2 linked regions of the Homo sapiens genome follow. The protein of the gene in region 1 interacts with the protein of each later gene in a pairwise test. Each region holds a gene or a part of one and is shown on either strand. Other genes may lie near its edges.

The links. The genes of interacting proteins can lie anywhere in the genome.
Region 2: the proteins of KAT14 (region 1) and DPPA4 interact in binary tests that used the Homo sapiens proteins (3 or more experiments, as listed by UniProt).

Annotation. Positions count from the first base shown.
Region 1 is NC_000020.11:18,161,773-18,165,421, reverse strand, and holds part of KAT14 (cysteine-rich protein 2-binding protein), read right to left. Parts: intron 3,603-3,649; coding exon of another isoform or gene 3,600-3,602; coding exon 3,183-3,599; intron 3,046-3,182; coding exon 2,477-3,045; intron 1-2,476. UniProt on the Homo sapiens protein: Component of the ATAC complex, a complex with histone acetyltransferase activity on histones H3 and H4. May function as a scaffold for the ATAC complex to promote ATAC complex stability. Has also weak histone acetyltransferase activity toward histone H4.
Region 2 is NC_000003.12:109,335,377-109,339,125, reverse strand, and holds the start of DPPA4 (developmental pluripotency-associated protein 4), read left to right. Parts: upstream 1-1,579; 5' UTR 1,580-1,608; coding exon 1,609-1,662; intron 1,663-2,418; exon of another isoform or gene 2,419-2,805; intron 2,806-3,749. UniProt on the Homo sapiens protein: May be involved in the maintenance of active epigenetic status of target genes. May inhibit differentiation of embryonic cells into a primitive ectoderm lineage.

The sequences.
Region 1 (3,649 bases):
TTTGCAAAGGGCCTATTTCCAGATAAGGCTGCATTCATAGGTACCAGGGTTGGGACTTCAACATATGCTTAAGGGGGACACAATTCAGTCCACAACAATGACCCAGAATGACTATTTAGCTTATCTTCTCCAGGAAACTTCATCTAATAGTGGCAATTTACTTACACAGCTAGATTTATGCTTGCTACTCAGTATTTTTTTAAACGAAAAGTATATCATTTAGAGACATACACATTTAAAAAGCAAAAGAATAATTAACACTGTAAGTCAAAGTGGCTTCCTCTGAGGGGAACAGAAAGTACACAGGAGACTTCTAAGGTGTTTACAACACTCTTTATCCAGGAGATGAATACATGGGCATTTATTTTACTAATATCTAAATTATACCATATTTCTATGCTGCCTTCTATCTGTATGACACATCTTACAATTTAAAAAATTAAGTATAGGCAGTAAACAGACAGGCCCACAAGAATAAGAACAAAGAACAGGTGAATATTGGCCAGGCGCAATGGCTCATGCCTGTAATCCCAGCACTTTGGGAGGCTGAGGCGATCACTCGAGCCCAGGAGTTTGAGATCAGTCTGGGCAAGATAGTAGGACCCTGTCTCTACTAAAAATAAAAATTAAAAAAAAAATTAGCTGAGTGTGGTAGTGTGTGCCTATAGTACCAGCTACTTGGGAAGCTGAGGTGGGAGAATTGCTTGAGCCTGAGAGTTCGGGGCTGCAATGAGCTGTGGTTGTGCCACTACATTCCAACCTGCGTGACAGAGAGAGACCATGTCTCAAAAAAAAAAAAAAAAAGAACAAGAACAAGTGAATAGATGACTAACAAAAGCATATGAACAAGCAGCAAATGACTTAACAGACCAAAGAAAGCCAATACCTAAGCCAGTGGTGAAGCTAAGCAGGGTGATTTACAAAACACAGCCTCAGGGAAGTGTAGTCACCTAAGGCATCAGGCTTAGAGCCTGGGGGGTATGACTATGGATTGTGAGGCTCTTTAAGAGGTTAAAGGCTCCAATTATACCCCTATAGTAATTATACTGCCCACATCTAGGAAATGATCTTTCCCTCCACGGGCAGAAGACTGGAGAGGCTCAAGAGGGAGATTCTGGACACAGGAAGCCAAGGGTGGGAGTACTGTACTGAAGACAGGGAGAGTCAGTTTACCTCCTAAACGATGGGCTCCTGGGCCCTCCCGACTTGGCTCCTGGTAGGCAGGCCAGTTAATACTGTGCTTCCCAGGAAAGATGGGAATTAGGAAAAAAAAGAAAAGAGGATCTATCTGGAGTAGGGATCTTGGTAAACTATAGCCCCCAGGCTAAATCCAGTCCACTGCCCATTTTAGTAGATAAAGTTTTACTGGAACACAGCCACACTCATTCACTACGGCTCTCCAATCACAACAGCAGAGTTGAAGAGTTCCGAATGAGATTTTGTGGCCGGCAAAGCCTAAAATAATTACTATCTGGCAGAAATACTTATTTCTTTACAGATAAAGTTTGCCAACTTTTAATCTACAGGGTCCAATATCCAAATAATGGGGAGTTCTAAAATGAGAGAACAGAAAAAATAGAAGATAGGAAATCAAGACTTTTCCATACTCAGGAAAGAAAGTTTCAAATTGAAAGGGCCCACACACCACATGTCCAGCACAAGGAAAGACATAAGCCCTACATACGGCACATCACTGAATAATACCAGAACACCAGCAATGAAGAGCAGATCCCACTAGCTTCCAGAGAAGAGAGAAAAACATGCAGACTCCAAACAGGCAATTCACAAAGAAACAACCAGGAAATTTAACCTCACCTGTAACCAAAGAAATATAAATAAAAAACAAGATTTCACTTTACAGCCAGCCAATTAGCAAAACTTAAAGGCTGGTTAGTGTCAAGTGCTAGCAAAGATAAAGGGAATAAGGCCTCTTGTTCCTCCCAGTGGGAGAGTATATACAGGTAGTTCTAAGTGGAATTAATTGTTCCCAGAAGCATCCACAAAATTTGGGTTCCACCGACCATCCTTTGAGCAACACTGATACCACACTGATCCCTTGGCTGCTATTTCTTCATGTTGTCCTTCGCAGATGTCTACACACCTTCAGATCCTCTGCAACACAGTGTCAGAGACACCGTCATGGCCTCAACAAATTTGTCAAAGCTACGACACAAACCATGCATATCTATCCTCAGAGAGAGAGAGACAAGAGAGACAGATGAAGAAAACTTATAGGTTATGTTTGAATGCCTAAAGGAAAAGAAAAACTCAGATGTATTCAGGTGTACTTACAATGAACAATTCTGAAAAATAAAGCCCAGCGATTTTTGTATTTTTTTCCCTTGCACTTTACTTTTCTCTTCCCAAATTACTCAGGATTTAAAAGGTCACAGCATAACCATGTCCAATGCCTAGTGCTGCCTGCCCCACCTCCACTCCTGCCCCCAAGGGCTTTACAGCAAGTGCTTGCATTCACCTGGTATCGGTCAAGGATTCTGAAGTCCTGACAGGTGGTTCTGTACGTGGCTTGTCCAGCTGGAAGTCTGGAAATTCCTCCTTCTTTGGCTCCATAAATCCCGTCAACTAACAAAAGAGCAGCATTAACAACTTGATCCAAGTCAAAAAGTGGTAATCCCCTATCCCTTTTCGCTTGTCTGACAATCAGTTTGCGTTTCAGTCTCCGAGCTTCCGGAGTCATGGCAACAGCACCGGGACAAGCTTCCAGCCTCTTGAGCAGCAGCTTTTCCTCGTAGATGCTCACGGGAGTATACCTGGGCTCTTTCGGCTTTGTGTCCTTCTCCAGCTGAGGCTTCCTCTTTTCTCTAGCCCTTGTTTGCAAAGATGTGTTTGAATCTGTGTCTTCACTGTCAATATCCATCCTGTCGGGTTTTTCCTCCTCACTCTCTACCTCCTGCTTTATCTGTTCAGGGCCTCTGACCTTCTTTCTGACCCCAACCACTGGCCCAGAAGCTACTGACCCAGCAGGGGGTGGGACGTACTCCATCCCTGGGTCTATGACTCCATCGCCTTCCATCTCATCGTCATCTGTGCAGAGTACAAAACAGTGTCATCAAGACATAGGAAGGAAGAAATGCAGAGCACACAGCCCACGGGGTGAAAACTTGTACATTTATACCATGGCCCATACCCAAAATAAAAGAGCAAAGCAAACAAACTCTTACCATGAAACAAGGCTTGTGGGGGCATCACATCTGGAATCAGATCTGCTTCTGAAAGCAAGCTAGGTGTGGCAGAATGAGAGGCAGGTGTACCAGGGGCAGAGAAATCCAGAGAAGGAGAAGGAGATGGGCTTGTCAGCGGGGTGCGGTCAGAGGAGCTCAAGGAGGAAAAGTCAATCACTTCGCCTTTTTCCAGAATCACATCTGGCCTGCGGCCTCGGCTTATGAATTTTACAGGGGTAGAAGATGTGCTCCTGTCAAGAAAGCCAGCGGCCTCCTTCTGGGCTCTTCTAATGTCTTTTGCTTCCTGAGTTCGAGACCTTTTCTCTTTTAATTCCATGGCAGATTCCACAGGATTCCGACTTGCTCGTTTTCTAAGTCCCTCAACAGTAATGATGGGATCTAAAGTTGGTTTTGAGGCTGCTAAGAAAGAATAAATACAGGCTGAGTATCCCTCATCTGAAATGCTT
Region 2 (3,749 bases), on another chromosome or scaffold:
TCTGCCTCTCCAGCTCAAGCAATTCTCCTGCCTCAACCTCCTTGGTAGCTGGGATTACAGGCACGCACCATGCCCGGCTAATTTTTGCATTTTTAGTAGAGAAGGGGTTCTGCCATTGTTGGCCAGGCTGGTCTCAAAACTCCTGAACTCAAGTGACCTGCCCACCTCAGCCCCCCAAAGTGCTGAGATTACAGGCGTGAGCCACCATGCCCAGCCCAGAACTCCAGTTATTCTGAATGTTACGTTCAATTACACTGACAAAAGAAAGATGATTCAGTTATACACTTTATACACAAACCTTAATTAGAAAGTCCTACTGGTGGTTACCAAAGGCTGTGGTAAAGAATTGTTAAATCAAAGCCCTAATATCTCCCAGATGACCTCAACTCACCTGGTTTCCTCTTTGCCGCCTTGGGGGTTGCCCAGTCCACAACCTGCACTTCCTTCTCTATTCCTGGGCTCCGTTTACTTACTTTTTCTGTCCGTGGATTTCTAGCCTGTGAGCAGATTACTAACACCATTTGGATAAAGACAGTCTCTTATTTATCATTTTAGGACAAGCAATGAGATGTAGGAAAAAAAAACAACAAAGTAAACCAAAGAACAAAAGAGACTTTGGACCCTGACAAGGGAGGGTTTCAGTCGCACAGCCACTGCTTCCTTCACTTCACATCTCTTGACAATCTGACAGGGAGCACTGATCTGAGGAAAGATTTTTCAAATTATTTTAAGGAGAAAAACTTGAACTTCTTTGGGAGTCAGTAGGTTAGGGGTTCACTTACTGTGCTATTGAAAAAGTTACCAATAAAAATTTATACCAACTTTAGTCATATATAAAATGGGGAACAATAATGACTGAATTTAAAACTCACAATTTGAGATATAAAAAAATACTCGGGCGGGGAGTGGTGGCTCACGCCTGTAATCCCAACACTTTGGGAGGACAAGGCTGGAGAATTACTTGAGGGCAGGAGTTCGAGACCAGCCAGGTCAAAATAGCCAGACCCCCCCACTTGCCCTCTACAAAATAAATAACAAATACTCTATAGACTTTAAAAGCTACTATTATTAGTTCGTTGGCAGATGAAAAGATGCTCGGTATTAGTACAGAGAAACCTGGAGTTTTAGTTGGTTGAGTAACTTACTTAGGAAATGGAATGTATTTGGTACGAGAAAATAGCTTTCTTCAAGCCGCCAGTCTGGTCTCTGAAGTCTACTGTTGCCACAAGTTCCATTATTAAATCCCTTCACACATCCTGCTCAAGTCTCTGGCCACTGTTTTTTTGTTTTTTGTTTTTTGTTTTTTTTCCCCGTAGAATCGTTCTGAAGGAGTGCTCAATCTCCCAATGTCTCCGGAACCATACTTTGGATAATTACATTTAAAGTGAACAGAAAAGGGCCAGGAATAGTATTAGTAATTCAACCCAGACAAAAGTCACCCCATGAATAAGAAAGAATGCAATTTTAGCATTTACAAATTGTGGGGGAGGGAACAGAAGGGGAGAAGAAAAGAAGAGGTGAGGTGGAGAGAAAAAGGGTCTTCGGGCGGCAGGAAGTGGGAGGAGACTTTGCAAATAGCAATCTTGGGGCAGGGGCCATTTTGGAAGCATGTTGCGAGGCTCCGCTTCTTCTACAAGTATGGAGAAGGCAAAAGGCAAGGAGGTCAGTACAGTTTTAGTGGATTTGTTTTCTGTCTGTCTTTGTGTTTCTGTCTTCCCTGGGCACTCCTGATTTTTCCTTTAAGGAGAAAAGAATGTGCCTTCGAATTTTCTCCTCTTGACTTTTTTTTTTTTTATTTTAAGAGTAAGGCCCAAGAATATGATTGCAGCCTGGTATATTGGAGTGAGCAGACAAGTAAGAAATGAGGTTTTCTAGGTTTAGTTGAGGAGGTTGAGTGTGTCAAAAGATGGGGAAAAAAAAAAAAGAGGCCGGGCGCGGTGGCTCACGCCTGTAATCCCAGCACTTTGGGCAGCCGAGGCGGGCGGATCACCTGAGGTCGGGAGTTCGAGACCAGCCTGACCAAAATGGAGAAACCCCGTCTCTACTAAAAGTACAAAATTAGCCAGGTGTGGTGGCGCACACCTGTAATCCCAGCTACTCGGGAGGCTGAGGCAGGAGAATCGCTTGAACCCGGGAGTCGGGGGTTGCGGTGAGCCGAGATCGCCCCATTGCACCCCCAGCTTGGGCAACCAGAGCGAAACTCCACCTCAAAAGAAAAAGTTAAAAAATTAGGTTTTCAGGTTTGTGTTTTGGAACAGGGTTTCACTTTTGTCTCCCTGGCTGGAGTGCAGTGGCACCATCACTATTCACTGTAACCGCCCAGGCTCAAACGATCCTCCCACCTCGGCTTACCAAAGTGCTACTGGGACTGCAGGCGCCCGCCGCTGCTCCCGGCCCGGGTTTTCTGTTTTGAAGAGGTGCTTAGTCCTGTCAGAAAGAACTAACTGAATATGGGGGCTAGAGGGAAATGGTAACAGGAGAAAAGGGTGTTAAAGGAAAGATTTTAGGAAGAGGTAATTGAGCTGAGTTTGGAAAAGAATGAAACCCCTTAATTTCCTTTAGACGGACACAGATCCTAAACCGAGGGTGCTGAGAATGAATTCGTCCCCTTTTCCCAGCGTCCTTAGGACCTAGGAGTAATCAGAAGCCAGACATTGGGAACAATGCAGACAGAAACTGAAGGAAGAGAGGATTTAAGACGTTGCACAGGCACTGAACGGCCATATCCGAGCGCTCTCAGGTCCTCTTGACTTGAACTGGGTCATTTTTAACTGTCTCGGTTTTAAGTCTTTTGTGAGGTCCAAAGTGAGTACTTTTTGTAAGGTTTATGCAAATATAAATTTCAAATCAAAATGTAGAACTGCTATAGAGATGTAAAAATGCCATACAAATGTTAATTTGTCCAGTAATCCACCCTGAAAGTGAAGAAAAGGATTTAGATTTAGGAGAAATTTTATTATATTAATTTTTTTTTTTTAATGAGTTTGACTCTGTCGCCCAGAGTGGTGTGCAGTAGCCGATCTCGGCTCACTGCAGCCTCTGCTTCCCGGGTTCAAGCGATTCTCCTGACTCAGCCTCTCGATTAGCTGGGATTGCAGGCACGCACCACCACGCCCAGGTAGTTTTTGTATTTTTGGTAGTGACTGAGTTTCGATATGTTAGCCAGGCTGGTCTCGAACTCCTGACCTCAATCGGTCAGCCCACCTCGGCCTCCCAAAGTGCCGGGATTACAGGCGTGAGCCACGGAGCCTAGCCTTTATATTTAAATTTTAATTTATATCTAATGTACCCCTAATCTGTGTCTTTATGTTACCTCTGATTCTCAGCTTCTGTGTCTGAGAAGTAATTGTTGCCAGATTGCTATGAGAATTAAATGAATGAAAAAAGGAAGGCCAAGGCCAGGCACAGTGGCACACGCCTGTAATCCCAGCACTTTGGGAGGCTGAGGTGGGCGGATCACTTGAGGCCAGGAGTTTGAGACCAGCCTGGCCAACATGGTGAAACCCCCATCTCTACTAAAAATAGAAAAATTCAGCCGGGTGTGGTGGCAGGCGCCTGTAATTCCAGCTAGTGGGGAGGCTGAGGCAGAGAATTGCTTAAACCGGGGAGATGGAAGTTGCAGTGAGCCGAGATTGGACCACTGCACTACAGCCGGGGTGACAGAGCGAGACTCCTCTCAGAGAAAAAGAAAATAGGGAACCCTTGGGCGCAGTGGCTCGCGCCTTTAATCCCAACTCTTTGGGGAGCCA